Homo sapiens: one gene and its partners. The protein of the gene in region 2 interacts with the protein of the main gene of each other region in a biochemical or structural test. Each region holds a gene or a part of one and is shown on either strand. Other genes may lie near its edges.

Evidence for each region.
Region 1: the proteins of SNAP25 (region 2) and STX2 form a complex in vitro, tested with the Homo sapiens proteins (one study listed by BioGRID).
Region 3: the proteins of SNAP25 (region 2) and SCAMP1 form a complex in vitro, tested with the Homo sapiens proteins (one study listed by BioGRID).
Region 4: the proteins of SNAP25 (region 2) and KCNB1 form a complex in vitro, tested with the Homo sapiens proteins (one study listed by BioGRID).

The regions. Positions count from the first base shown.
Region 1 is NC_000012.12:130,836,229-130,843,845, forward strand, and holds the start of STX2 (syntaxin-2), read right to left. Parts: upstream 3,023-7,617; 5' UTR 2,872-3,022; coding exon 2,842-2,871; intron 1-2,841.
Region 2 is NC_000020.11:10,221,828-10,228,852, reverse strand, and holds part of SNAP25 (synaptosomal-associated protein 25), read right to left. Parts: intron 2,176-7,025; exon of another isoform or gene 2,073-2,175; intron 1,567-2,072; exon of another isoform or gene 1,415-1,566; intron 1-1,414.
Region 3 is NC_000005.10:78,356,001-78,363,618, reverse strand, and holds the start of SCAMP1 (secretory carrier-associated membrane protein 1), read right to left. Parts: upstream 3,003-7,618; 5' UTR 2,948-3,002; coding exon 2,891-2,947; intron 1-2,890. UniProt on the Homo sapiens protein: Functions in post-Golgi recycling pathways. Acts as a recycling carrier to the cell surface.
Region 4 is NC_000020.11:49,374,668-49,381,692, reverse strand, and holds part of KCNB1 (potassium voltage-gated channel subfamily B member 1), read left to right. Parts: intron 1-6,700; coding exon 6,701-7,025. UniProt on the Homo sapiens protein: Voltage-gated potassium channel that mediates transmembrane potassium transport in excitable membranes, primarily in the brain, but also in the pancreas and cardiovascular system.

The DNA of each region.
Region 1 (7,617 bases), on a different chromosome or scaffold from region 2:
TCAGTTTTAACTTACTATTTTATACTAGGGAGAAGGTTGTTCTTTTCTCTTTTTTTGAGACAGGGTCTCAATCTGTCTGTTGCCCAGGCTGGAGGGCAGTGGCAAAATCTTGGCTCACTGCAACCTCCGCCTCCTGGACTCAAGCAATCTTCCCACCTCAGCCTCCTGAGTAGCTGGAACCACAGGCATGCACCACTACACCTGGCTGAGTTTTTGTATGTTTTTTGTAAAGACAGGGTTTTGCCATGTTGCCCAGGCTGGTCTTGAACTCCTGAGCTCAAATGATCTGCCCACCTCAGCCTCCCAAAGTGCTGGGACTACAAGTGAAAGCCACTGTGCCCAGCCAGAAGGCTGCTTTTTATAACTCCCTAAAAACAAAAAATCTGGTAAACATTAATCACACTTATAATTACATAGCACTTGCTCCCTCCCACCTTCTCCCAGAGCTTCACACATTAGATAATTTTATGCTTCATAACTCCCTCTATGAGGTGGACAAGAGAGATACCACTGTCCCCATTTCACGTACAAGAAAAAGTTTTGAGAGATTTAAAAATTATTTGCCCAAGATGAGAAACTCCATGAGTGGAAACTTCCACGGATATACTCTCTGACTGCTCAGCTGCTGTGTCTAAAGCAGGATGGTATTGAAGTAGATGAGCTGACTTCTAGCTCTGCCGTTCTAGAACAAAACTGATTGACATGTTCTACTGTTTCAGGAAGGGTTTGGATATATAGAAACTGAGTGACAAATAATTGCCTTATTTGCTTTTTGCTATTCAAGCCAAGAAAACGTACTTTCTCACGATTCCCCAACATATAAATTTGGCTGTATTTTGCCAAAATAGTCACAGCTCTCACGTTCAATGACATTGAGCTTTTTTTTTTTTTTTTTATGAGACAATGTCTCACTCTGTCACCCAGGCGGGAGTGCAGTGGCATGGCACAATCATGGCTCACTGCAGCCTCTATCTCCTGGGCTCAAGGAATCCTCCTAGCTTAGCCTCCTGAGTACCAAGGACTACAGGTGCGAGTCACACCTGGATAGTTTTTTTGTGCGTGCTTTGTTTTGTTGGTTTTTCTGAAACAGAGTCTCTTTCTGTTGCCCAGACTGGAGTACAGTGGCACAATCTCGGCTTTCTGCAACCTCCGCCTCCTGGATTCAAGCGATGCTCCTGCCGCAGCCTCCAGAGTAGCTGGGACTACAGGTGTGCGCCATGACATCCGGCTATTTTAGTAGAAACGGGGTTTTGCCATGTTGGCCAGGCTAGTCTCCAACTCCTGACCTCAAGTGGTCCACCCAACTCGGCCTCCCAAAGTGCTGGGATTACAGGCATGAGCCACTGCGACTGGCCTCCTGCTAATTTTTTAATTTTTTTCGAGAAACAGTGTCTCCCTGTGTTGCCCAAGCTGGTCTCCAATACCTGGGCTCAAGTGATGCCCCCACCCTGATCTCCCAGACTGCTGGGATTACAGGAGTGAGCCACAGCTTTTCTTCATTAAATAAATACCTGAGCTCCTACTACACGGCACTGAAAGATAATCCATCGGGCAAGACAACACAACTATAATTTGCTGTGTTTAAGATGATATTGATCTGCGGAACACAGGGAATATTTGTCCATTAATAAAAAAGGAAAAATCACCGTGAAGAAACTTCCTTGGAATGAATATAAAGCATAATTTCCATGATCCTAAGGATGAAATCATTGCCTTTCTCAACCAGAGCTCCTCATCTGAACCACAGAACACAGATAATGATTTAAGTGGCTCTTTTCTCTATTCTCCCACTCGGGGGTACATAACAGCTCCATTCTAGCAGCAGAGGAGAGAGAATAATTCATTACATGCAGTGGGTGTCGTAGGGCTGTGGGCCTTAGCACCCCTGTTCTGAGGCTGCCAACAATTTAGAGACCAGAGGCTCTATCTGTGCACACACGTAGCATGAATTAGTACCTGTATTGTAAAGGGAAAAAGTCATAACTACTTCTGCTGGCCTAAGCCGTCCTGGGTTAGACAAGCTTGGAAAGTGCACGACCATCACTATCATTCCGCTGTCACTGCACCATGCACAGTCCTGTCACCTTTACACGTGTAGAATGCATCGAAATCCTTCCAAAATTTTTAGTGACCTGCTTTTCCCTTGCTAAAGTAAACAGTAACTTGCTGTGTGCCCGGCTGCTGGGCGCGTAAGGTGCGTTCAGAGTCAACACACGGTCCCAGTTTCCAAAGCAAACTACTGGGAGATCAGACACAAGCTGCTGTTCGCGCTCGCCCCACCCCAAGCACCCAGCACTCTAAGGTGCCCACATTTCACACCCATCTGTTGCCTCCCGCTTGGTGCACAGTCCTTTGTGAAGCCCCAGGGATAAAGCAGCGACCAAGAGGACCCGGCCTGCTCCCCGGGGCTGACGCCAGCTGCGGGGACCCCGTGGGGCGGACCACAGTTAGGCCAGTGGGCTCCGGCTGGGTAAGCGCCAGATACAATCCGCCAAGCGGAGTGACGGACAGGGAGCCACGCTCGAAGAGGGGGTCGAGGCCGGGACCTTCCCCGCTCCCTCCTCCTGCCCCAACCCGCCCTGAGGACTCCGCCCAGGAAGCCCTGGGGACCCCGCCCGGAGCCCCCACCCTAGGACTCCCGGGACCCCCGCCCTGGGGACCCCACCAGCAGTCCCCGCTCAGGACTCCCTGAGACCCTGCCCGCAGCCCCCGCCCCAGAACGCCGGAGATCCCCGCCCTGGGGACCCTCCCGGAGCCCCGCCCAAGACGCCCCGAGCCCCCGCCCGCCCTCCAGACGCCGCCCCGGCCGGGCCTGAACCGCTACCCGCGGCTGCCGCTCACCGCCGTCAGGTCTGGCAGCCGGTCCCGCATCCCCGCCGGCCGGGCAGCGCGCCCCGCCGCTCAAGCCTGTCCCGAGCTGCCTCCGGCCGGGCCTCGGGCTCTCCGGTCTCCGCCTCAGGCCCCGCGGTCCCGGCCCGGCGCCAGCAGCCCTCCCTGGAGCCGGCGCTGCCACGGCAACCGCGCCCCGCGCGCTCTGCGCATGCCCGGCCCGCGCCGCGCCCCGCACCCACCCACACGGCGGCAGCGCTTTCCAGCGGGAGCCCGGAGGGGCGGGGCCTGGGGGCGGGGCCTAGGCGGGGAGGGGCGGGGTCCGGCCGAGCCCCAGGCTGGCAGTTCCGCTACACGTGCTGTTTGTCCCTTGATCTGCTTTTATGCTTTCACACTCATTGTTTTATTTATCAAAATATAGAGCATTCAACGAATAGTGACAAAAGAGCAAAGCTCCCGGAATGTGCTGGGTGCAGCTTTGGGTAATACATATGCCGAACCTTCTCTTTAAGGGTCCACGCGCAGCCTCGGGTGTGAATGAAGGAGAAGAGATCGTGTACCACACATGATGCTTACGGAGCATAACACGGCAGGGGGCGGTAACGGGAAGAGCGTCCGCAGGCCCAGCCCTGGGATACCATTCTGGCAGGAGAAACAGGCAATACAGACACAGACAAATAAATGATAGATGAGAAAAGAAAGTAAGGGCATGGGCACGGAACTGGCAGAGAGGTCGTCATGAAGGTGCAGGAGCTTAGGTGAACTACCCAGGTTGGGGGAACAGTCCCCAAGACCATTATCACCTCTGACACCAACGGCAAATTCTGGCGGTTTCCAAAACCACCTTCAAGTTCCATAATTTGCTAGAAGGAATCACAGAATACACTAAAAACTACTGTACTCACAACTATGGTTTCTTAGCAGGAAAATGATACGGATTAACATCAGCCAAGGAAGAAGGGCAGAGGGGGAGTCTGGGGATTACGGCGTGCAGCTTCAAGGTCCTCCCGTGGTCCTCTCCCTGTGTAGTCAGGCCTCATTACTTGCCCTGCACTGATGTGTGGCCTTACACACGAAGTACTGCCAGCCAGGGAAGCTCACTTGAGCCACAGTGTGCAGAACGTTTACTGGGCTCCATTGCATGTGCATGATTGATTGATTGTTTGATTGCTTTCATGCTTGATCTCAGCCTCTTGGTTAAGTGATATCCATGTAACCCTAAGCCCCCACCATAAATCACACTGTTACTCTCTGGCTAGCCGAAGACTCCCAGGCAAACAAAGATTGCCTTCCAGGAGGAGAAGGCAAGGCCAGATTTGTTTTTAAACAAGGTTAAAGTCTTTACTGCCTCCTGGAGGAGGTGGCTTTGGTCTGACCAGAAGGCAGCGCTAAGAAATCTGCTTGAGAGCAACAGGCTACACATTAAAAAACAGGACGTTTTGGACTTGGTTCTAGGTGTGATGTGGTTCTGTTACCCGATGGAAGGTCTTGACAGCCAGTTGTCCAGGTGAGTGTGGTGGCGGGCACCTGTAATCCCAGCTACTCAGGAGGCTGATGCATGAGAATTGCTTGAACCCGGGAGGTGGAGCTTGCAGTGAGCCAAGATCGCACCACTGCACTCCAGCCTGGACAGTAAAGCGAGACTCCGTCTCCAAAAAAAAAAAAAAGATATGTTTTTTCTCTCCATATCCTGAACTTCCCCACCAGAATGCCTCCTGGACCCCGCAACAGGCAAGTGCTTTTCTTTCGGCCTTCTTGCCTCTGCCACCACCATTTTAATTCTCCCTCTCTGGTAAATACTGGGCCCTCCCTCGTTTCTCCCTCTCTCCCAGTGGATTTTTCAAAAACATATGATAATATTGGCAGCAGCTGGATGGTGTTGAATTGGCAACCAAAACTTTTTGTTTGTTTGTTTGTTTGTTTGAGACAGAGTCTTATTCTGTCTCCCAGACTGGAGTGCAGTGGCATGGTCATAGTCCACTGCCGCCTTGAACTCCTGGGCTCAAGTAATCCTCCCACCTCAGCCTCCAAAAGCACAGGGACCACAGACATGAGCCCACCATGCCCAACCTCAAAACTTTCCTTATCCTGCCAGAGAAAAAAAATGAAGTTGTGAATAATCGTTGTGGGAATTCAGGGACCCTGAATGGAGGGACCGGCTGAAGCCATGGAAGAAGAACATAAATTATGAAGATTTCATGGACATTTATTAGTTCCCCAAATTAATACTTTTATAATTTCTTATGCCTGTCTTTACTGTAATCTCTGAACATAAATTGTGAAGATTTCATGGACACTTATCACTTCCCCAGTCAATACCCTTGTGATTTCCTAGGCCTGTCTTTACTTTAATCTCTTAATCCCATCATCTTCGTAAGCTGAGGAGGATGTATGTCGCCTCAGGACCCTGTGATGATTTTGTTAACTGCACAAATTGTTTGTAGAGCATGTGTGTTTGAACAATATGAAATCTGGGCACCTAGAAAAAAGAACAGGATAACAGCAATGTTCAGGGAACAAGAGAGATAACCTTAAACTCTGACTGCCGGTGAGCCAGGCGGAACAGAGCCGTATTTCTCTTCTTTCAAAAGCAAATGGGAGAAATATTGCTGAATTCTTTTTCTCAGCAAGGAACATCCCTGAGAAAGAGAAAGCATCCCTGAGGGTAGGCCTCTGAAATGGCCGCTTTGGGGGTGGCTGGGCATGGTGGCATGTGCCTGTAGACTACTCAGGAGGCTGAGGCAGGAGGATTGCTTGAGCCCAGGAGGTTAAGGCTGAAGTGAGCTGTGACTGTGCCACTGCACTCCAGCCTGGGCAACAGAGTGAGACCCTGTCTAAAAAAATATATATATACACATACACACATGCACTATAAATATATAGTATATACATACTATACACACACATATAGTGTATACATGCTATATACACACATATAGTACATACAAGCTATATGTATATACAGATCGCAGCTGTAGGGATGAAATAAGCCCCAGTCTCCTGTAGCCCTCCCAGGCTTATTAGGACGAGGAAATTCCCGCCTAATAAATTTTGGTCAGACCAGTTGTCTGCTCTCAAACCCTGTTTCCTGATAAGATGTTATCAATGACAGTGCCTGCCCGAAACTTCATTAGCAATTCTAATTTCTCCCCGGTCCTGTGGTCCTGTGATCTCGCCCTGCCTCCATTTACCTTGTGATATTCTATTACCTTGTGAAGCATGTGATCTCTGTGACCCACACCCTATTTGTACACTCCCTCCCCTTTTGAAAATCGCTTATAAAAACTTGCTAGTTTTATGGCTCAGGGGGCATCACGGAACCTGCCGACATGTGATGTCTCCCCCAGACACCCAGCTTTAAAATTTCTCTCTTTTGTACTCTGTCCCTTTATTTCTCAGACCGGCCAACACTTAGGGGAAATAGAAAATAACCTACGTGAAATATTGGGGATGAATTTTGCCCAATATCTGGCTGAATTTCCCCTGATAAATAATAATGTGTAATTTATCATTTTTGTTCATATTACATACATACATATGCAGTCAAGGTGTTTTTGGGGTCAAAACATCAACCAGATCACAACAGTGCGTTCAAAACACCATCATAACAGCCAAACACTAAAATTGAATGAAATCTACATGGAGGCTGAGGTGGGAGGATTGCTTGAGCCCAGGAGTTGGAGGCTGCAGTAAGCTGTGATCATGCAACTGCTCTCCAGCCGGGTCCACAGAGCAAGACCCTGTTTCTAAAAAATAAATAAATAAATAAATAAATGTTTAAAAAACTTAAAGAAGAAAACGCGAAAGAGGCAGAGGAAGAGGAAGAAGGAAAAAAGAGAGGAAGAAGGAAAAAAGAAGGAAGAAAGAAAAAAGGAAGGAAGGAGAAAAAAGGAAAAAGAAAGGAAGGAAGGAAGGAGAAAGGAAATATGGAAGAAAGAAAGAAAGAAGAAGGAAGGAAGGAAGGAAGGAAGAAAGAAAGAAAGAAAGAAAGAAAGAAAGAAAGAAAGAAAGAAAGAAAGAAAGAAAGAAAGAAAAGAGAAACAAAGGGCTAAGTTACATTCCCGAGAAAATCTGACTGGAGCCTGGGCAACATAGCAAAACACTGTCTCTGCAAAAAATTTTTAAAAATTAGCTGGGCATGGTGGCATGTGCCTGTAGGTTACTCAGGAGGCTGACGCAGGAGGATTGCTTGAGCCCAGGAGGTCAAGGCTGAAGTGAGCTGTGATTGTGCCACTGCACTCCAGCCTGGGCAACAGAATGAGACCCTGTCTAAATATATATATAATATATATTACATATATATATAATTTATATATATATTATATATATTATATATACATTATATATATAATATATATAATTTATATATATATATTATATATTATATATACATTATATATATAATATATATAATATATATATACACACACATCCACTGTAAATATATAGTATATACATACTATATGCACACATATAGTATATACATGCTATATACACACATATAGTACATATAAGCTATATACACCCATATAGTACATACAAGTGGTATACACACACATATAGGATATACATGCTATATATACTCATATAGTACGTGCTACATATACACATATATAGTATATACTATATAGTATGTATATGCTACATAGTATATAGTATATACACACATATGTATATAGTATATACATGTAGTATATATACACATATGTATGTATGTATATATGTATATATAGTATATATTGTATATATACTACGTATATATAGTATATATTGTATGTATACTACGTA
Region 2 (7,025 bases):
GAAAAGAAGCATATGGCCTTCATGTAACCTATAATAAAGAACCCTGGAAATCTGGTATGGCAAATAGCAGGTAACTGAACATAACAACAGTCCCTTCCTCTTTCTCAGAGTGGTGGAGGTAACTACTTCACAAGCATTAGCTCCTTTAGGTCTCACGACAACCACTTGACATATATGCATGGCAGCAATTGCTCTCCTTTTACAGATGTAAATAAAAGTGAGGCTCAGTTCAGATTAGGTAAATTGTTCAGGGTTATACAATTGAAGTGGCAGAGCTGGCATGCAGCCAGCTGACTCTCCACCCATTGCTCCATGAACTTGTTTGGACACATAGTTTCTCTGGTCACTTACACCACCATATCTCACCTGGCTATTTAGCTTGGAGGACTCAGCTTTTTAGATTTGGCTGACTCACGTTCTATGTATCAGCAGTGTGCTTTCTGTTAGAGGATCTCAATGTATTTTGTGCAACTCATGGGATAATTTATGGGGTGGTGGGGAAAACCATGGACTTTGCAGTCAGAGACAAGTGTTCCGAACTCTTTTAAGGCTGCCATGGAAAATAAAGGAAACAACATACATCAAGTGCCCAGTGCAGCACACAGTAGACATTTAGGAAGTTAGTTACTTTTTTCCTTGTGGTCATTAAGTGGTAGTATCTTCAGTCTTCTCTGGAGAAAGTTGGATGCAGAGTAACCCGTGTTTTCATGAGAAGGAATGGGGAAAAAAGATATGCAAAATTCAATGCTCAACTGGTGAAGGTTTTTTTCTAAGGACAAATGGGACTTATTTACCAAATCATGCCCAGGCTTATGATTCTCTCCCAGGCAAGAGGACACTGACTATTTGAGAGGAAAAGCCCAGAGACTGGTGTCTCTGAAGGACACTTTTAAGGAAGCGGAATTGACATGAAAAACTTGTGTCCACCATGCCAATTCTAATAGCACAGCAGCAAATATGTGACCCTGAAAACACAAGTTGGCCAAAGCCATAAATCTACCCCACTGGTGAATGTAATATATGTCTCAAATGGATGTATGAAATATCCTTTTCATCCTAGTGAACAGTAAAACATTTAAACTTATAATTCATATATGCTAAACTGCTTGACTTTAAATGCTCTTAGTGAATGGCTTTTAATCTCTGAATATAAACCTGATTTTAGCAATGCCTTTATTGAGAATCCTTTGATCCTTCGTTAGCATTTTAACTCCTGACTCATAAGTGATAAAACAACAGATTAGAATATTATACCATTTGCCATAGTTTGGCAGCTAGTTAGGGTAAACCTAAGTAATTCCTTGGGACATAATTTTATTCCAATATTTAGGATGAATCTATGTGCAAGGGTACACAACAATTCCTGAGTTATTCTGATCATAACATTTGATCAATAAAAAGCAGGATTACTTACAGTGGTAGAATTCTTTTCTCTGCAAAGGGGTAGCTGGTATCCCCATTCGCTCACTTATTTCCTGCATACATGGGTGTGGCAGGCACTGTTATAGGTACTGAAGATTCAAAGAAAGCTAAGATATTACCCTTGCTCTCAAAGACTTCCAAAGTCTATTAAGAAAGAGAAATACATAAGTAGGTAACTACAAAGCAGTGTGATCAATCTTACAAGGGAGATAGGGGCATTGCTCATTGGTAAGAGGTGAATTTCTAGAAGTAGGAGTTTGGGAAATTAAGACATAATTCTACTTGATCCAGAATCACTACATAATTCTACTTGATCCCGAATCACTGAACTTTGTTTAATGACAGGAAGTTTTCAGAGGAGGAAAGTGGATTGGATTGGGAAGTACTCTCATCCAAAGGATCCTTTCTTAGTCAACCTATTCTTGCATTGCTCCATGAGTTTTGGAGTTGGGAATAGGATTTCTGGCCCAGGAGGTACCATGTTTCTTAAAGCTTGACCCCTTCCTCCCATGAGCGGCAGAAAGTGGTCTCTACAGGGAGAGATCCCAACAGATTGGGATACTGGAATATAGTCATGTATTTAAGGGACATTTTAGTGACATCCTAGTTGATTGCCATGTAAATAGAGACAAGTTCACACAAAGACATACCTTAGATATTTACTGAGTTCGGTGATGGCTGAGGCTGGTTCTTAATATGTATTTGTTTATGATATAGCAATCTCTCTGTAGATACTGACAGCTCAGTAGAAACCTTCAATAGATTGTATATTTTGATTAGAGAGCCATAGCTCTTTTCTACATTGAATTAATGTCTTAGATTCTAAAAGGCATCCCATTGAAACATGCCTTTTAAAATAATGACACCTCAAGAGGGGACACCTAGCATAACACATGGAGGGCAGAAACATGATGATTTTATTTACAGCTCTGACTTTAGGAACCAGTGTATGTTTTCCTGGTACATGGCAGGTGTTCAATAAATATTTGTTCAATGGATTAATTAATGAAGAATGCCATAATAGCAGCTGATTTATGATGAAGCAATACATGGGCAGTGATCATGGAATTGGAAAAAGTAGATACATTCAGCAATTTCTCTGGCATAAATTAGGAATGGACTTTCCCATTAAAATAAAAAATTCACTCAACAAGGCTAATGCGTATTGAAATAGTTTGCCAGTGTTCTTCCTAGCAGTCTTTCTGGCATTTATTTCTGTGCATTTTCTGTTTATTGATAGAGAAGTCACAGTGTGATTTACCTATACCTAGCTGCCAGACCAACTTCGGAATAACTGCAGGGAAATTTAAGAAATTCACTGTTTTGGAATTTGCCAGTTATTATTCTTTGAAACTGTACCAAAGATGAACATAAATAAAGGAGATTAACAACTTGGTCTGAGACTCTTCATGGAAAGGGAACTCTGTCCAACTTGCAGGATTTTCAGAGCTCAACTGAGAAAATTCTCTGAAAAAGGAATGAGGCAGGAGTGTAGGGCTGAACTCTGGCCTCAGGGGGGCACCTAAGAGACTTTCATTTTTTTACTTGCTGTTATCAGTAAAGGACAGAAACCACTGATTCAAGGTTACAGGCATGGAAAGTCATCTCTCAAGTTCAAGATCTGTGACTAGTGTCATTTGAATAAAGGAAGTGATGGGGAAGCTGGGACCAGATGGTCATTTTGTAGAACCTGCCACTTTGGAGGAAAATAACCTTTTTCTTTAAGTAAAAATGGACCACCTTGGAAGATTAAGACACAATGAGTCAGCAGAAAGTGCCAACAGTCTCAATTTAAGACATGAGAATTAGACATCTTTGAGTAATATGAACCATATCAACAACAGCAAAGAAGAGGATGAAATATATTTTTCCACAACCAAAGAAAGCAAGCCATAAGCCCAGTACAGCTGTTATTCAGCATCATTCGGGAGCAGGCATCATTTGACTGAATTTCTCTGGAATCATTGTTAAGCATTTAGAAGGAAATGCTAATCCTTAAATAGGATTTCCCCCCATCTCTTTTTAGGGATACAGATTTGTTCTTACCAGTAAGTCAGTCACTGCTGAGGTTGACCTCTGTAGTCAACAATAAGAAAATCAGTTAGGATTTCCTCTTGTGATACCATGTTTTACCTTGGTGGAAAGACATTGAAATCTGCAGTAGGTTGTGACAAGGCGAATGTGTTTTTTTTTTTTCCCCTCCGGGACATGTGAATTTATTTGATGTGTGACTATGAATTTAATTAATCAACATTGTACCACCAACTGCTGACCTCTGACCTCATAGGCTTTAAAGCTTCCTTCTCTCCTTGTCCTATGTTTTTAAAGCTTTCCTGTGATGTCATTTTACCCCACATCCTCCCAATGTGATTAGTTTTTGAGCTGGCTATCAGTATCATGAGATTCAGGTCACACAGGAATGTTACTTTTAAAGTACTTTACAGCTCACAGATTCTATAAAAGCTTCTGTTTCCTCTTTGCTAAGCGGCAGAAGAAGTAAGAGGATGAGTGAGGGAACTGCAGCTAATACATTGCTAAGTCAGACACACGAGATGATCAAGAAGAGGTCTAGAAAGAAATTTATACAAAGTTTAGGCAGGTTGTAGGAGACAGTATGTGCTAGATAGCTACAAATCTGATTGAGAAGGACAGGAGATACCCAAAGCAGTGATGACTCAGAATAGGGCTTTGAGGAAGAAGACAGGATTTCTTAACTCTGAGAAGGCTTCAGAAAGATGAAGGCAAGCAATTCTGAGGGGGGAAAAAATAAGGATTGGGATGAGGGAGGCGATGAATGTAATTAATCTTCCAATTGGGTCCAGATCAGTTACTGAAGCATTATTAAGATGATGCCAGCTGAGGCCATCGGTCACTAGGCCAGGACCCATTGCCTGGGGTTTTCAGCACTGATTTCATTGATTTTTGAATGGTAGGGATATTGGACATCATTAGTCCACTTCTATCATTCTGCCAGTAAAGAAACCAAGTTCAACAGTGGTGCACTGACTAATTTAAAGACTGTGTAATTCCAAACAGGAAATTACAAGCAGTTGTTTCAGGGCTAGAGCTGGGTCTCCTGGCTCTGACCAGCATCCTTACCTTCAGGCCTTGCTACCCAAGTGAGGAGGAAAAGACTGCAAAAAAAAAAAAAAAAAAAAAAAAAAAAAAAAAAAGACATGTACATTCTCTATGCCTTATTTGGCCAATATGAAAAATATGGATGATGCAAGAGGTAGCATAAAATACACTTCATAGCTTAATCTCTGGAGTCAGACTGATTACATTTAAGTCTTGGCTCTGCTCTGCGACAAGTTACTTACCCTTGCTGTGCATCAGTTATTTCATCTGCGAAATGGAAATAATAATAGTAATCTGACCACAAGGTTGTTAGGAGGATACAGTGAGCCAGTATAGGTAAACACTTTTAGAATGAGTGTCACATTCTTCCCCATAAGCCCATTCTGATTAATCACTGATTTGGGTATCTCTGTCATTCTAAATCAATTTATGTCTTACTAAATGTGATCTAATACTATATCTGAACATATGTGTCTGTGGGTTGCACTATTTATTTAGAAATCAGAAATTCCTTGGACTTTCATATTGGGTGAAGTGCTTGAGAGTCTTGTGAAGAAAATTATGTAGAAAGAGTAGGTATTATTGTTAAGGCAATAATAGCAATTCTGAGGAGTTCACAGTGTAGCTGGGGTTCTCTAGAAATTTCTATGAAGTCTTTTTCCTCTTGTAAGACTTTTTTTTTTAACTTTTTGTCCCCTCATCATGTCCTACTTCCTCAGTGCTATGTCATATCTCCTTCCTTCACCTTACTTGATGCTTGTGTAGCCCCTGGACTCAGTTTAATAACCACCAACCTGACCTCCTAAAGCATCAAATGTCACTACCTCTAAGTTTCCCCTAGGTAGTCAGCTTGGATATAAAAATGTTATCCTGTGGTGTCTCTACTGCCAGTGTTTTAGTGAAGAATAGATGAGGATAGTCTCTTGATACCTTATAGCCAGAAATGAAATGGCAGTAAAATCTGTATCTACCGTTGCCATTTCTTCCTCTACATGAACCCACTGACTATTTTGGCTTAGCAATTCTGTCAGCATTTGGATTTTTGAAGCTCTTCTGTGAGAGTAGTAACCACAAGGTTAGAAAGGAAATGGGTGTAATCCAGACCTCGAGGTAGCCCTGAAGTGAGGGTAACTAGCAAGAGTCAGCAAAATAGGCAGGGAAAGAAATCTGATATACTACCCATTCCAGTTTTTCAAAATTCTACCATTCCATCTTTTTCCTCCCATTTTTAGCCACTTGGGGCTGGTCCTATATGTCATGCTGCTCAAAACATGCTCAGAAGAAATGACAACTTTTTTCATTCCTCCCGTCAGTGCACTTGACAATGCTGAATATTCACAGAGGGCAAGAGAGTGTTCAGCACCATGTTTATTATTCAAGTGCACCTTCTGGGACCTTCTGGGGTGTCTCATCACCAGATTCTTGACTTTCTTTTCAGTCTGCCTGGCAAGTGCTCAACTTGCATAATTTCATTTAGTCAATAATGGAAAATGGAAACTTGCAATTAACTTCCAAGCAGGAATTATATGTCTATGTAGGTATATGTATCCTGAAAAGTAGTCTTAAAAGATGCTTCAGTAAGGACTGATTTTTTTTCATTAACCATCTCTTATGATACCAATTTGCTCCCCTCTACTTCTGGAAGAATGCAAATTAAATCCACTCTGTCAATAGTAATTTCTGGATATTAAAAAGACCTGGTTACTTTGTTATATCAGCTTCTGCTCAGAAATCAACTTTAGAGGATAAAGTACCAAATTCTCAGCTTGACATTCAAAGCCTTCCACAGAAGGCTCCAACTCTGCATCCCAGCCTATTCCCTCCAAGCTTCCCACTCCACCCAAATCAATGGGCATTTTCAGGGTTTGCCAACTGTAGAGTGGGCTTGCCTAACTTGATATTCTGCATATGTTGTGACTTCAGCTTAACAGAACTCTCCCACCTCTCTGCAACCTCCAAAAGCCATCTCAAGGCCTGCCTCTTCTCTCAGATTGTTCCAGTCCACTGCGATATCGCCCTCCTGATTTTATGTTACTTATTGTTGGTTACATTCACTTGGAAATTAATCACATATGTCCTCAAAATTTGTCTTCTAATGTTTTATTGCATTTAATTCTGGTTTTATTTATTAACTTATTGTTTATTGCTTTTATTAAGATTGCTAGATGCTAAACTTATTGAGGTCAAGACAAAACCATGAAATTTTATAACTCCCATGGGATTCATTTCTGTATCCGGTGAATACCGATTGATCAGTATCTTCCTATCAGGTTGGTACTTGCTGACAAGGGATGACATTGCAGAAAGTATCCAGCGCTGAGGCTTAAAACACAGATTTTTCCTTCTTTTATAGAATTGTAAAGCAGTCCCATAATGTGAGAAACATTGTTTATTCATAGTGAATTATCTAAAAAGCATATTTTCTATTTTTCTCCTTCATGTCTCCTCTCTCAACCTCTTTCTCAGATTATTTTTCTCGTTTCTACTAATCGTCAAAACCTACGTGTTATGCTGAAGGCTGACTG
Region 3 (7,618 bases), on a different chromosome or scaffold from region 2:
AGGATTTAATGAAAAAGAAATTAGCATAGTTACCAAATGCGAAATATCATATACTTGAAAATAAGAGCTTTATCTTCAAATACTGCAAATAAAAACAGATTTGAAAAATGGGTCGGGCCCAGTGGTTCACGCCTGTAATCCCAGCACTTTGGGAGGCCAAGGCGGGTAGATCACGAGGTCAGGAGATCGAGACCATCCTGGCTAACACGGTGAAACCCCGTCTCTACTAAAAATACAAAAAATCAGCCGGTGGTGGCGGGCGCCTGTAGTCCCAGCTACTTGGGAGTCTGAGGCAGGAGAATGGTGTGAACCCAGGAGGCAGCGCTTGCAGTGAGCAGAGATCGCGCCACTGCACTCCAACCTGGGCGACAGAGGGAGACTCCGTCTCAAAAAAAAAAAGAAAGAAAGAAAGAAAGAAAAACGATCTGCTTGAACGCAGTGGCTCCCGCCCGTAATCCCAGCACTTTGGGAGACTGAGGCAGGTGGATCACGAGGTCAGGAGTTCAAGACCAGCCTGGCCAATACAATGAAACCCTGTCTCTACTAAAAATACAAAGAATTAGCCGGGTGTGGTGGCGGGCACCTGTAATACCAGCTACTAGGGAGGTTGAGGCAGGAGAATCACTTGAACACGGGAGGCAGAGGTTGTGGTGAGTTGAGATCACGCCATTGCACTCCAGCCGGGGCAACAGTGCAAGACTCCGTCTCAAAAAAAAAAAAAAAGTAAAAAAAGAAAAATGATCATAAAGTAACTCAAATGATTCTAGAAACATTTCAGATTTAAGTAGAGTATCAGAAATGTTATTTCAAAAATCACTTTTACATAAATATAAGCAGAAGTAAAAAGACAAAATATAGATATAAAACTATACTTTGTGAGGAGGAGGGGCAGGTGAACATAAATGGAAAAATAAAGGGTCAGATACACTGACAGTGCTATAACAGTCACCAAAAACAGAGAAAGATCATAAGCAGAAATATGTGTACAACCAAGTCTACTTTAGACCTAAATGATCTGTCCCTGATGCATTTTACAAACTTGAATAATCATTGTCCTGGATACATCCACTTATAAAAGAACAAAAAAGATTTATAACGTTATGCCACAATGAATATTTAAAACAACTCCTGGGTTTAGAATTACTACAGCAACTTTATGAATGTCAGAAGAGGAAAAGTGTCATGGCAATATCAGATGTCACAAAAGGACAGTCTGGGCTAAGATGAAGACAATGTTTTGCCCTAACAAGAGAGCCAGTTAATATGAAATGAACCATGAAATGGAATGACCAAGTAGAAAATACACTGCCAAATCGTCAGATGCTGAATAAACAGCGTCAGTGAATTATCTGAATTAGGAAAGGCTAAAAGGTTCTTGATGTTTTATCTTCAAAATATTTTAAAATAACACCCATTTAACAATTTATGAACGGTCTCTTTAGAAAGTCTACCATTTAAGAACTACCTGATTTTCCACAACATGGAAGCAAGTCCAATACTAATTGAAACAAAACTGCCAGGAAAAAAAAAAAAGTCTTAAAATGCAACCATGTCACTGAAAGGTACAGGCCAGTTGTACTGAATTTTAAGTGACATTAGGGACAATGAAACAGTGACTGAGTCTAATTCTACACTGCTACAAAGTGAGTCGAGTTGTCAATAATAATCAGGGTCATTTCATTAAAATAATCCTCCTTGGAATTATCAGGCATTTAATAATCAGAGCAGAAATAGTTTTCCTCTTCCAGGATTCTTAATGAAAGATAAAACCAGGAGTAAAAAGATGTAAACTCAACAAGCCAGAAGTGACACTTGTGTGACCACAAATTAGAGTTCCTGTTTTATTCTGTGTGACTGCAAATTAAAGTTACTACTGCACATGGCCGGGGGGATTGAGAAACAACTTCAACCAACAGTTGGAAACAAATTACACGTGCTAACAGTTACACTCATTAGGAAATTCAGAATACTTTCAAAGAGAGAGTTATTTAGATGTTGCATTCATTTAAACGCAGACGATGAATATCTCAGCCGCCTTCCTTTGCAGGATTCTGTGCCAAGCCCTTCCGAAGCCGGGGTTGATAAGGTCGACTCCAAGAAGAAAAGCAGCTCAAGTAGGAAATGGTATCCTCACATAGCCCAGAGAACCGGTGACGCACTAGGAGCTTGGAAAATATCCCATCGTTTACCTTGCTAGAAGCAGCTGGGTAGGGAAGAGGTCGTCCACGTGCACTATTGTTTTCCAGATATGTTTATTTTTAAGTTTTGCTTTGGTATCAATAACCTCAACCTCAACCTAACAGAAAGAGGGGGGATGGCAGCGCCACTGGTGGTATTTGGGTGCAACACAAGTTTAAAAAATAAAAACATAACCTTTTTTTTTTTAATTGCAGCATACTCGGTGCCCTCACCTCTCTCCTCCTCCACACCTCTGCCATCACCCCACGCAGCTCTCCGCCGCCGCCACCTCGGGTCCCCATGACAACCCCACCCCAGGGCGGGCCCCCCTCCGCCGACTCCCGGCCCTGCCAGCCACACTTGCTTGGCAAGGGGCGACTCTACCTGCCCTCGGCTTTCTCTCCTGAGAGGCGGGCCAGGACCCCTCCGGGCGCGCGGGCCCAGTCCCGGCTGCAGACACGACCCTCACCAGTCGGGGACGTGTGGAAGGGCGACCGGGCACGAGCTGAGGAGGTTCCACCCCCAAGCCCCAAAACCCAAAGGAGTGACACGGGGCCGGGGCGCGACCCCAAATGGAGGACGGCGGCCCCGCGCCCCTCTCTGGGCTGCTAAGGGGAGCCGAGGGGCAGACGCAGTGGGCGCGAAGGAACTCGTCCGTTTTCACAAACAACGACGCGTCGCGGCGGCAGGAGATGCTGGGGCCGAAGCTCACCTTGAAGGGATTGTTGAGATCCGGGTCGGCAAACGGGTTACTGTCGAAATCCGACATCTCTCTGGCTCTCGGCGTCACCCACCCGACCCAGGCGCAGAGAGAGAGACGAGGCGAGGCCGCCGCCCCCCTGCGCGCTCACGTCGCCGCCGCCGAGCAGATCCGGGTGCAGCTCGCGGGCCACCCAGCCGGCCGCGCCACTGAGCATGCCCGGTGCGGCGGGCTCCTGGCCGCGGCGCAGCTCGCGTTCGCCATCCCGTTCCTCCGGGCCCGGATCCCACGCTCCGGGCTTTAGCTGCGACCGAGTAGGCAGTCGGGGCGAAGGAAACGGGAACTGAAAGCGATGAAAAGCGTTCCACACGCCACGAGCCCGCGGGATCCTCGGAGAGTATGGAACCCTTCCCCTCCGCTCTCAGCCGGAGGCCAGCTGCGTCCAGCCGGGCTCGGTCTTCTGAACACCGATTTCAAATCAGGTCCTCGGGGCCCAGCGTCACTTAGGGAAGTGGTGGCATTTTGTGGTAAGGACGCACACTTGTCAGGTTGGGGGAGGCAGCCTGAGTCGTGGGCCGCGCACCCCGGGAGCAGTGCCGTTAGACCGTGGGACGCGGGCACTGGAGAGGCTACTGCACCGCCCTCCGCAAATTACCTCCCCGGGGCGGGGGCGCGGCCGCTGCTAAGGATTTTTGCATACCCCTGACCCCACCTGAGAATCCCGGCCTCCCATCTTCCGGTCTCTCTGACTCTAGGTTGCTGCTAAATCACGGAGAGCAGCCTTGGCGCTGCCGGTCCCAACTTGATCCAAGGAGCCTTGAGAAGGAGATGAGATTCAGTACCAGGGGCCGGCCGTGGCTCCCATCCTCCGGAATCTGCAAAATGGCTACTTCTTCAGAAATAATGGGGAGAGGGATGGCAAGAGGCCAGAGATCAAGGCCCTCGAGTATTAACTTGAGCATTTGGGCACAAAATAGACACTTTTGGATTTTCCCGTCTTTTCCAACACCAAGGATGAGATTATCAAAAGATGTGTTAAATTAATTTGTACCGGCCGGGCGCGGTGGCTTACGCCTGTAATCCCAACACTTTGGGAGGCCGAGGCGGGCGAATCACAAGGTCATGAGTTCGAAACCAGCCTGGCCAATATGGTGAAACCCCCGTCTCTACTAAAAATACAGAAATTAGCCGGGAGTGGTGGCGTACGCCTGTAGTCCCAGCTACTCTGGAGGCTAAGGCAGGAGAATCGCTTGAATCCGGGAGGTGGAGGTCGCAGTGAGCCGAGACCGGGCCACTGCACTCCAGCCTGGGAGACAGAGCGAGACTCTGTCTCAAGAAAAAAAAAAAATCAATTTGTACCATTCCTTGCCCCACCCTGCCGAACTTATTGAAAGAGCATCGCTTTCCTCACTTTTCTCCTCTAACAGAAAAGCACTTAGATGAAGCTACAGGGAGCCAGAATTCTTTTGACTTGGTGGGTACCGGAGGATTGGAAGAATCTAGATTGAGTATTCCTTGGCCTTTGGGGAGCTTGCTCTATGCAAAGTCACCCAGGAAATGATACTCCCCCCACTGTGAAACACTAGCTAGAGATGATAGACAAAAAGCACATTTGTTGTAATCTCCCTTTGACGGGATTCAGGTTGGGATAGATGTCGAAGCAGCTGCTTCTAGGTAGTCAACGAAGATGTCAACTAGTAAATGACAACAGACAAGGATGAGCACAGCAGAGCTGTACGATTCTAGATATCAAAAAGAGCAAGCAGTCTGTTGTACTCACCATCGCATCCTCAGCAGCTGCCCAGTGCCCGGTTTTAACTTAGTGCTCAGTGTATGTGTCAGGTTTGAATCCCAATTCTGATACTACCTGTGCTACTCTCTTCACCTCTCTGAGTCTGTAAAGGATTATTTAAGAATTAAATGAAACAACATACAGAAAAGTGTCCTGCATGTATATTTAGTGCCTAACAAATATTGGTTGAACGTCGAAAGTGGCAAGGAGGCTCAGTATGTTCTTATACGCTTTGCCTCCCTTCTCCTGAGCAAGCATGTCCTTGCCCAGCTCATCTGCTTCTCTCACCACTTTTGCCCTCACTCCCTCCACCTGTCCTCCAAATGACTCAAAATAATCTGCACTATTTATTATGCATCTACTATGTTCCAAGACAATGAGGGTCAGCTGAGCCCGCATTGCAGGATGGAAATTTCCAACTATGTTCTGTTTACAGCTAATGATATTTGCACCTAATGCAAAGGTTTACAGACTTTACTGTTATAGAATCATTTGGAATACCTGTTGAAGATGCAGACACCCACCTTACCATACCTCCTATTGCTAAGATTACGCTTGAAAGGATCTGAGGTAGGGGCTCTGGATCTGCATTTTTTATTTTTTACATCTCTATACATTATTTTACATAAATGTATAAATGGAGTCATGACATACATATTGAATTTTTCACTTACAAAAATTTTTATTCCGTGTATTCCCTCTTCTCTTCCCCTACATTAACAACCTAGTACATTTCTTTAAATATTCTTGTAATAGTGTATATCTGCACTTACATAAAATAACATGTAATTGTATAAAAACAATACATATTCATGCAGATATGCATACACTCTAATACTGAGCTTTGGCATTGTCTTGAAAAAGTTAGATCATATGTATATTTTTCTGCAGCTGTTTTTCTCAATACGTATGGCAGAATTTCTCAGCAAGATGTGCATTGTCAGAGAGACAGTCTTAAGGTTTCTTCCCCTAGTATGCCACATAAATATTATCACTTTTTATGTGTAGCATGCCTATAGAGTGAAAAGGGAAGCATGGCCTAATGGAAACCATATATCTGATTCATTATTCTTAACAACTGCAAAAATCAGCATATGTAAAGGATCTCAGGTGATTTTTTTTTTTTTTTTTTTTGAGACCGAGTCTTACTCTGTCACCCAGGCTGGAGTGCAGTGGCACAATCGTGGCTCACTACAACCTCCACCTCCCTTGTTTAAGCAATTCTCCTGCCTCAGCCTCCCGAGTAGCTGGGATTACAGGCATGCACCACCACACCCGGCTAATTTTTGTATTTTTAGTAGAGATAGGGTTTCACTTTGTTTGCCAGGCTGGTCTCGAACTCCTGACCTCAAATGATCCAGGCCACCTCTGCCTCCCAAAGTGCTGGGATTACAGGCATGAGCCACCATGCTTGGCCAACCTGAGATGACTTTGGTGGTGGCTGATCACACTTTTGGGAACACTGATATGAGGACATGCAGACATATGGTCCATGGGTGAGGGTCTTAATCTGTTTGTGTTGCTATAAAGGAATACGGGAGGCTGGATAATGTATGAAGAAAAGAGGATTATTTGACTCATGGTTCTGCAGGCTGTCAGCTTCAGATGAGGGCCTTATGCTGCTTCCACTCATGCAGAAGGCAAAGGGGAGACTTCGTGCAGAGATCACATGGCTACAGTGCAAGATGGGGCATCAGGGGAGAGAAAGGGAGAAGCTGACTCTCGGTTCTTTTGAACAACCTGTTCTCAAGGATGAGAACTCACTCTCAGGAGAATAGCACCAAGCCATTTGTGAGGAATTCATCCATATGGCCCAAACACCTCCCACCAGGCCCCAACTCCAGCACTGGGACTCATATTTCAACATGACACTTTGCAGGTCCAAAGCCATACCCAAACCATAGCAGGGAGCTTATTAATTCATTAGCCTCCATGAAATTTAGAATTATAGAATGTGCGAGCTGAGAAGGAACCTCAGCCTCTCTCATGATTGAAGAAACTGGAGTTTGGACAGGTTAAGTAATTTGTCTCAGACACCAAGGAAGTGAATGGGGAAACAGGGAACAGAACTCAGGTCTCTTGACTAATGTTTTAGACATTAAATAAATAGGTTATTAAATGAATAGAATTATTCTATATGAATAATTTCATATAGAAGGAAGAAATGCTATGTGCAAGGTAGAGAGAAATTATACAAGAAGCCTCATTTGGTGCAGGAGTTCATTTTACGGAAGGTACCTCCTAAATTTGGTAGAACAAAGACTCAAAACCAGTCTATGCCCTCTCTCCTGCAAACCAACCGTTTGATCTTGAACATATCAACTCACCTTTCTAACCAGAGTTTCTACTCTAGTACATCATTCAAGTATTTCTTGAGCAACTAAAACAGTGATGTTGTGGATAAAGCAGTAAACCAGGTATAAAGCGTAAGGCCTGCTCCAGAAAACTTCCTAAAAGGCCTAGAACATGGCTAAAGGATATCTCAGATCCTTTGGACAGTTCTAACGTTCTATTAATCTGGGACAGTGGCTCACTCCTCCCTAACCCTGTTTCTTTTCCCCTCAGAGTGTGCCTCCCATCATCATCATGCTGCTTCTCCTCAGACTGACACTTTTAATTGGTGAACCTATTGAGCAGGGTCTAGAGTCTGAATTCCTTGTTTTCTAAACTGCCTAGCTTATAGCTGGGGAATGCTAGGAAAATGCCAAGTTAGATATTTACGTTTCTTGCCTCAAAAGGTTCACTGGATTCTGGGTTCACTGATGGATTAGAACTGAAATCCATCATCTCTTACAGTGGGTCTAGTCTCCAGATTTGCTGCTGTGTCTGCTGATACCCTCGACGCCCCAGCACCAGCCTATCTGGCTCCCTATTCTGCCACTGGCTACATTTTCAGGCAATAACAGAGGAGGTGCAGGCATTGTGTGGTAGGCCAAATAATCCTCCCC
Region 4 (7,025 bases), about 39 Mb from region 2:
TCAGTTCCCCATTCCTGGGGCTTATCCCAGAAACCAAATCAACACAGTCCATCTGGGTCCACGAGCTGTTTAGAGGACGCACGCTGCCTTAGGCAGTCACTGGGGTCTACACAGCTACTCCTGGCTTCCAAAAGCAACCAGTACAGAGGTTAGGGATGGGGTTGACCATAAATTACCTGAATAATAATTTATTTATTTGAGACAGAGTTTCCCTCTTGTCGCCCAGGCTGGAGTGCAGTGGCTCAATCTTGGCTCACTGCAACCTCCGCCTCCCGGGTTCAAGCGATTCTCCTGCCTCAGCCTCCCAAGTAGCTGGGATTAAAGGCACCCACCACCACACCCGGCTAATTTGTGTATATTTAGTAGAGATGGGTTTCACCATGTTGGCCAGGCTGGTTTCGAACTCCTCAGGTGATCTGCCCACCTCGGCCTCCCAAAGTGCTGGGATTACAGGCGTGAGCCACCACACCCGGCCCTGAATAATAATTTAATAACATTATATATTAAGTGGCTTTTAGGTGAGTACTCAGTTACCTTCATCTTCATTTCAGAGAAAAGGAAATAGAGGCTCAGAGAGGGGGAGTGGCTTGTCCAAAGCCACACAGCTGGGGAATAATAGCCTTGGGACTCAAACTCAAGTCCAAAACCAGCTATAAATAAATGTAAAGAAATGTGGAGAAATAAATACAATTAAAGTTTAAAGTGATTGTGCCACTAGCTAAGGGCATTTTGAGTTCAATGAATTTTCATTGCAGTCTTGCAATGATCCCTGTCTTACATATAGGGAAACTGAGGCACAGAGGGCTTAAATCACGTTGGGAAGTTCCCCAGGCAGGAAGTGTGGCCCTGATTCTAAGGGCCTCACTGAGTCTGGGAAAGAAAAAGTTCTTGCAGGTGGGGTCAGGAGGGGTGGGGCAGGGGAGACCCCCCACACTGCATTACCGCATACGCTGTGTGATGCACATTCACACAGACCGATGGCAGGTGTGCTCTGACCCTCCCAACCCAACCCTGAGCAGCAGGCACTCCCCCACACCCTCCACCTTGGAGTCCAGTGGAGCCCCTCCCCCTGCTTTGCTCGTTTCCTAGGCTTCCTTGGGCTGAGGGAAGGGGAGAGGGAGGGCACAGTCTCAAGTACAAAAGGGGTGCCTGCTTTAGGTCTGTACAATAGCTGGGTGCATAATTCATGCATCTGTCGCCAGAACATCAATTATGTGGGCCTTCCCTGGAGTTGTCTGGGGGTTAGAAACCAAAGCAGGCTTCCCCTGCTAGCCTTTGGGGGAAAATAAGACTGCCCAGCTCTTAAAGGAACAGACTCCCAGGGAACCCATTCCTCCCTGTGCAGGCGCCCTCCTGCCAGAAGTCACCAGACGAGAGCAGCTTCCTGTAGGGCTCAGCCCAAAGCCCACTGGCTGCCCACTCTGACCCACTCTGTGTCCCCAACTCCACAATTGTGAGGGGCTGACTATTGGCATGTCCCAGAGTTTCTCAATCTCAGTACTGATGGCATTTCAGGCTAGATCATTCTTTGCCGTGGGAGCTGTCCTGTGCATTGTAGGGCATTTAGTGACATCCCAGACCTCCACCCCCAAGATGTCAGGAGCACCCCTCCCACCAGTTGTAACGACCAAAAATTTCTGCCAAAATTGCCAAGTGTCCCCCAGGAGTAAAAATCATCCCCTTAAAAACCACTAGTATGTCCTCATTTTACAAATAAGGAAACTGAGGCAGTGAACATTTGGATGCCCAAGGCCATTCCACCAATGAATGGCAAGAGCTAGAATTTCAACTCCAGGACCCACACTCCTCAGCTCAACACAGGAGCACCAAAAAGTGTGCTGCCAAGATGTTATTCCAACAATTACATATTTATTTTGGTGAATATTTAATACATATAGCCCTGGCATGAAAAATCAGCAATTTTGCATATGATTTCTTAGAATAAAGCTAAAATAAAATAAAGAAGGTGAGTGGGCTTTTTTGATTTTTTGTTTTTACCATTAAGGAAAGAGTGATACAAGTAGCAAAATACATACAGTATAACGTCAAAACTGAGCAAAGTCCAGGTGCGGTGGCTCACGCTTGTAATCCTAGCACTTTGGGGGCCCTGGTGGGAGGATTGCTTGAGGCCAGGAGTTCAAGACCAGCCTGGGCAACATAGTGAGACCCCATCTCTACAAAATATAGCCAGGCATGGTAGCATGCACCTGTAGTCCAAGTTACCTCGGAGGCTAAAGCAGGAGGATCGTTTGAACCTAGGTATTCGAGCTGTGATTGCACCACTGCACTCCAGCCTGGGCCACAGAGTGAGACTCTACCTCTTAAAAAAAAAAAAAAAAAAAAAAAAAAAAACGCAACAAAATGACAATTTAGGGACCCATATATTCTTATTGAAAATCATACAGAGAAACAAAGGGACGAAAAACTGCACACAGAGGTTATCTCTGGAGTGGGAAAGACACAAAGGAAGTGTCAGTGTTACTGCTGCCTGCTCTGTCTCTCCATTTGGGTGGCGGGTTCTAGGTGTTCATTTGATTATGGTTCATAAATTATATATAAATTAGGTCTATTTTTGTATATATCAAACATTTTATTTTCTTTATTTTATTTTTCAGACAGAGTTTCACTCTTGTTGCCCAGGCTGGAGTGCAATGGCATGATCTCAGCTCACTGCCACCCCCACCTCCCGGGTTCAAGCAATTTTCCAGCCTCAGCCTCCCGAGTAGTTGGGATTACAGGCGCCTGCCACCACACCTGGCTAATTTTTTTGTATTTTTAGTAGAGACGGGGTTTCACCACATTGGCCAGGCTGGTCTTGCACTCCTGACCTCAGGTGATCCACCTGTCTCAGCCTCCCAAAGTGCTGGGATTACAGGTTTGAGCTACTGCACCCTGCCTCAAACATTTCATTTATAAAGTATTACAGAATCTTCCTTTTTCAATGGGTGCAAATCAAGAAACTCAAACCTATTTTTTTTTAAACATAGGATGTGTCAGACTTAACTATAGCAAAAAAATCAGAAGTTATGGAACCCCTGAGGCTGGGGAGGCACCACACCTTGGAACATTCCCTTTCATCTTCAGAGCTGGCCCATCAGGGCACTGGCACTCTCTTGCCCCCTGTGGCATCCCCAATGTCTGGCCTAGTGCCTCACGCAGAGTAGATGACCAAGAAATATTTCCCAGGCCAGTGCAGTGGCTCACACCTGTAATCCCAGTGCTTTGGGAGGCCAAGGCAGGAGGACAGCTTGAGCCCAGGAGTTCGAGACCAGCCTGGGCAACAAAGTGAGATCCCATCGTTACAAAAAAGGTTAAAAATTAGTTGGGCTTGGTTGTGCTCTCCTGTATTCCTAGCTACTTGGGAGGCTGAGGTGGGAGAATTGCTTGAGCATGGGAGTTTGAGGCTGCAGTAAGCTATGATCACACCCTTGCACTCTAGCTTGGGCAACAGAGAAAGATACTGTCTCTAAAAAAAAAAAAAAAAAAACCTGAATTCTGGTACTGACCCTTCTACTTCTAACTCCATGAACTTGAGCAACGGCCAACAAATACTTGGTGAGCACCTGTCAGGTGTCCCACCCTGGGTTAGGTGCTGGGGGCACATAGATAAACCTCAGAACCCATCCCCATCCTCCCAGTACTCACCAATTCTGGGCAGCAATAAGCACACTCACTCACGTGCACACACACACACGCATGCACACACACACACGCACGCACCTGTGATGGGATATGAGTGGTAAGTATCCCCAAGGTATGGTAAAATGGTGAGGAAACCCAAGGATGGAGCAGTCAACCCTGCCTGGGGAAAGCAGGGAGAACTCCAAAGGGAAGGGGTCACATGGGCTGGATTTGAAAAGATGGATTGGAGTTCACCAGACAGCAAGCAAGAAGCTCGGACATGCAGAATTGACCAATGATAGTGTGCGGCTAGAGGAGTGTGAATTTTGAGAACCGATGGCAGGAGTGGCCAGAGAGAGAGGTCAGAGTCAAAATGAGAAGGACTTGACAACCAAGTGTCCTTACTGGGGATTCATTGCAGGGCCAGAAACCTCCCACACTCACCCATGTAGCAATTGGGTTGACTTACAGGATACAGCAGACAGTCTCAGAACAAGGACAGGAGGCAAAGACCGAGACCGGGCCACCCCGAGGCTGGTGATCTGAGTGGGTGGGGTGATGTGGGCTGAGATTTCCCCTGTGATGACAGCTGGCATCTATTAGACACTCACCGTGTGCTGCTGGAAGCTGTCCTAGCACTTTGCCTGTGCTAACACATTTCATCTTCACAGCAGTTCTCTGAGGTAGATACTGTTATTATCAGCCCATTTGCTAGATGAGGAAACTGGGGCTTAGAGAGGTTAAATAACATGCTCAATGTAAGGAAATGGCAGAGCTGAGGCTTGAACCTCAAACAGGCTGACACCAGAGCCTCAGCTCTTAACTGCTGCCCTCGGCACCCTGCTATGACCCTCCTGCGGTCCCCACTCCTCCTTCATCTGCACCTTCCCTTCATTCTCTGGCTTCTCTTGAAGGTTCAGCTTTCTTTGTCTTTTTCTTTCGTTTGTTTGTTTGTTTGTTTGTTTGTTTTTTGAGATGGAATCTCACTCTGTCGCCCAGGCTGGAGCGCAGTCGTGCAATCTCGGCTCACTGCAACCTCTGCCTGCCGGGTTCAAGCCATTCTCCTGCCTCACCTGCCAAGTAGCTGGGAATACAGGTGCCGCCACTATGCCCGGCTAATTTCGTTTCTTTTTTTTTTTTCCTTTTTCTTTTCTTTTGTTTTCTTTCAAGACAGGGTTTCTCTCTCTGTCACCCAGGCTGGAGTGCAGTGGTGTGGTCATGGCTCACCACAGCCTCAACCTCCTTGGGCTCAAGAGATTCTCCCGCCTCAGCCTTCCAAGTAGCTGGGACTATAGACATGTGCCAATACACCCAGCAGATTTTTTTATTTTTTGTAGAGACGGGGTCTCACTGTGTTGCCCAGGCTGGTCTCGAACTCCTGGGCTCAAGCAATCCCCCCACCTTAGCCTCCCAAAGTGTTGGGATTACAAATGTAAGCCACCATGTCTAGGCTAAGGCTCAGCTTTCTCTGATGTTTTTATGGCATCTCTGTCCCCTACATTTGGGAGACAGTTGCTTGAGGGTTGGGCTTATCATGAAGCTGATTCAAGCCTAGATTCTACTTAACATTTAATTCAGGGACTTACCCTCCCGTAACCCACTCACCGCCTGGGTTCCTGAACTCAAATTTCTCAAAGGTAGGCTGGCTAAGCCCCAGTGTACGGATTGGCTTAACTTGGATTTTTTTATCCAAACTTCATGCTCTGATCATTGGCAGGCAGGATCAAATGATACAACCATGGTGACCAGGCCCCCCCCTTCCCACTTAGCAGGGGCAGAGGAAGAGAAAGGGAAAATCTACAAAAGCAAGACAGGTATAGGGGACCCAATAGACAGGTTTAGGGGTTTGGATTTTTTCATGAGGAGCCCTGGAGATTTATTAAACAAAGGAGTAATGTGATTGGATTTGTATTTTTGAAAAAAAAAAAAAAGACCCTCAGAGCAATTGATTACATCTGTTTGCTTTTCTGCATAGTCTGTAGACTGGCCTACTGGCCTAGATTCCATTAATTTCAACATATATCCATTGAGCCCTTTCTCTGGGCCAAGCTCTCTTCTTGATCCAGGGGACTCAAAGGTAGTTAAGCCAAGGTCTTTAGCCCCCAAAAGCACATAGTTCCAATCAGGAGTTAACATGGGCCCAGAATGTCTGTGCCTCCCTAGGAATTACCTGCAAAATCTTGAGTGTCTAGGCATTTTTCTAGCAAAAGGTTAGCTTTCATCTGATTTTTTTCCCCTTTGTTCTTCTATAGAGACAGAGTCTCACTATGTTGCCCAGGCTAGACTCGAACTCCTGGCCTCAAACGATCCTCCTGCCTAGGTCTCCCAAAGTGCTGGGATTACAGACATGAGGCACCATACCCAGCCAAATCTGATTTTTAACACAGCCTTAAGAGCTCATGTTCTTGGGTCACACAGACCTGGGTTAAAATGCTGGCTCTTCCACTTACTAGCTGTGGAAACCCAAGTGTCCGCATCTGTTCAATGGAGCTAATAGCACTGAACGGGGTTATTATAAGAATGAAATGAGCTATTTCATGGAAAGTGCCTAGCACACAATGAACACTCAATCAAGGATAGTTATTATCATTAGTATCATCTCTGTGAAGGTAGTTCCCCATCCAGTGTGAGCCACTGGTCTAGATCAGAAGTCAGCAAATCATGGTTCACAGGCCAAATTCAGTCCACTGCCTATTTTTGTAAATAAAGTTTTATTGAAACACAGCTATGCCCATTCATGTATGTATTATCCAAGGTTGGTTTTATGCTACAGCTGCAGAGTCGAGTCGTTGTGACAGACAATGCAGGGTTTCAGGGCCTATAAAATGGTTACTATCTGAAAAAGTATGCTTGAACCCTGGGCTTGCTGATAGCTTTAAAACATTTCATTTCTCTGGGCCTTGGTTTCCACATCTAGACAATAAATGGATTACAACAAATTCTCTTTTTGGCTCATTAAATGACTAGTGAAATGTGAAAATGCTCTTGAACATTGAGGAGTGCCCTGTAGATCCAGGATATTATGATGATCATCCTGTGGGGTGGTTGATAACTAAATCCCACTCTCTTCTCCTCACAGATCCTTGCCATAATTTCCATCATGTTCATCGTCCTCTCCACCATTGCCCTGTCCCTCAACACGCTGCCTGAGCTACAGAGCCTCGATGAGTTCGGCCAGTCCACAGACAACCCCCAGCTGGCCCACGTGGAGGCCGTGTGCATCGCATGGTTCACCATGGAGTACCTGCTGAGGTTCCTCTCCTCGCCCAAGAAGTGGAAGTTCTTCAAGGGCCCACTCAATGCCATTGACTTGTTGGCCATTCTGCCATACTATGTCACCATTTTCCTCACCGAATCCAACAAGAGCGTGCTGCAATTCCAGAATGTCCGCCGCGTGGTCCAGA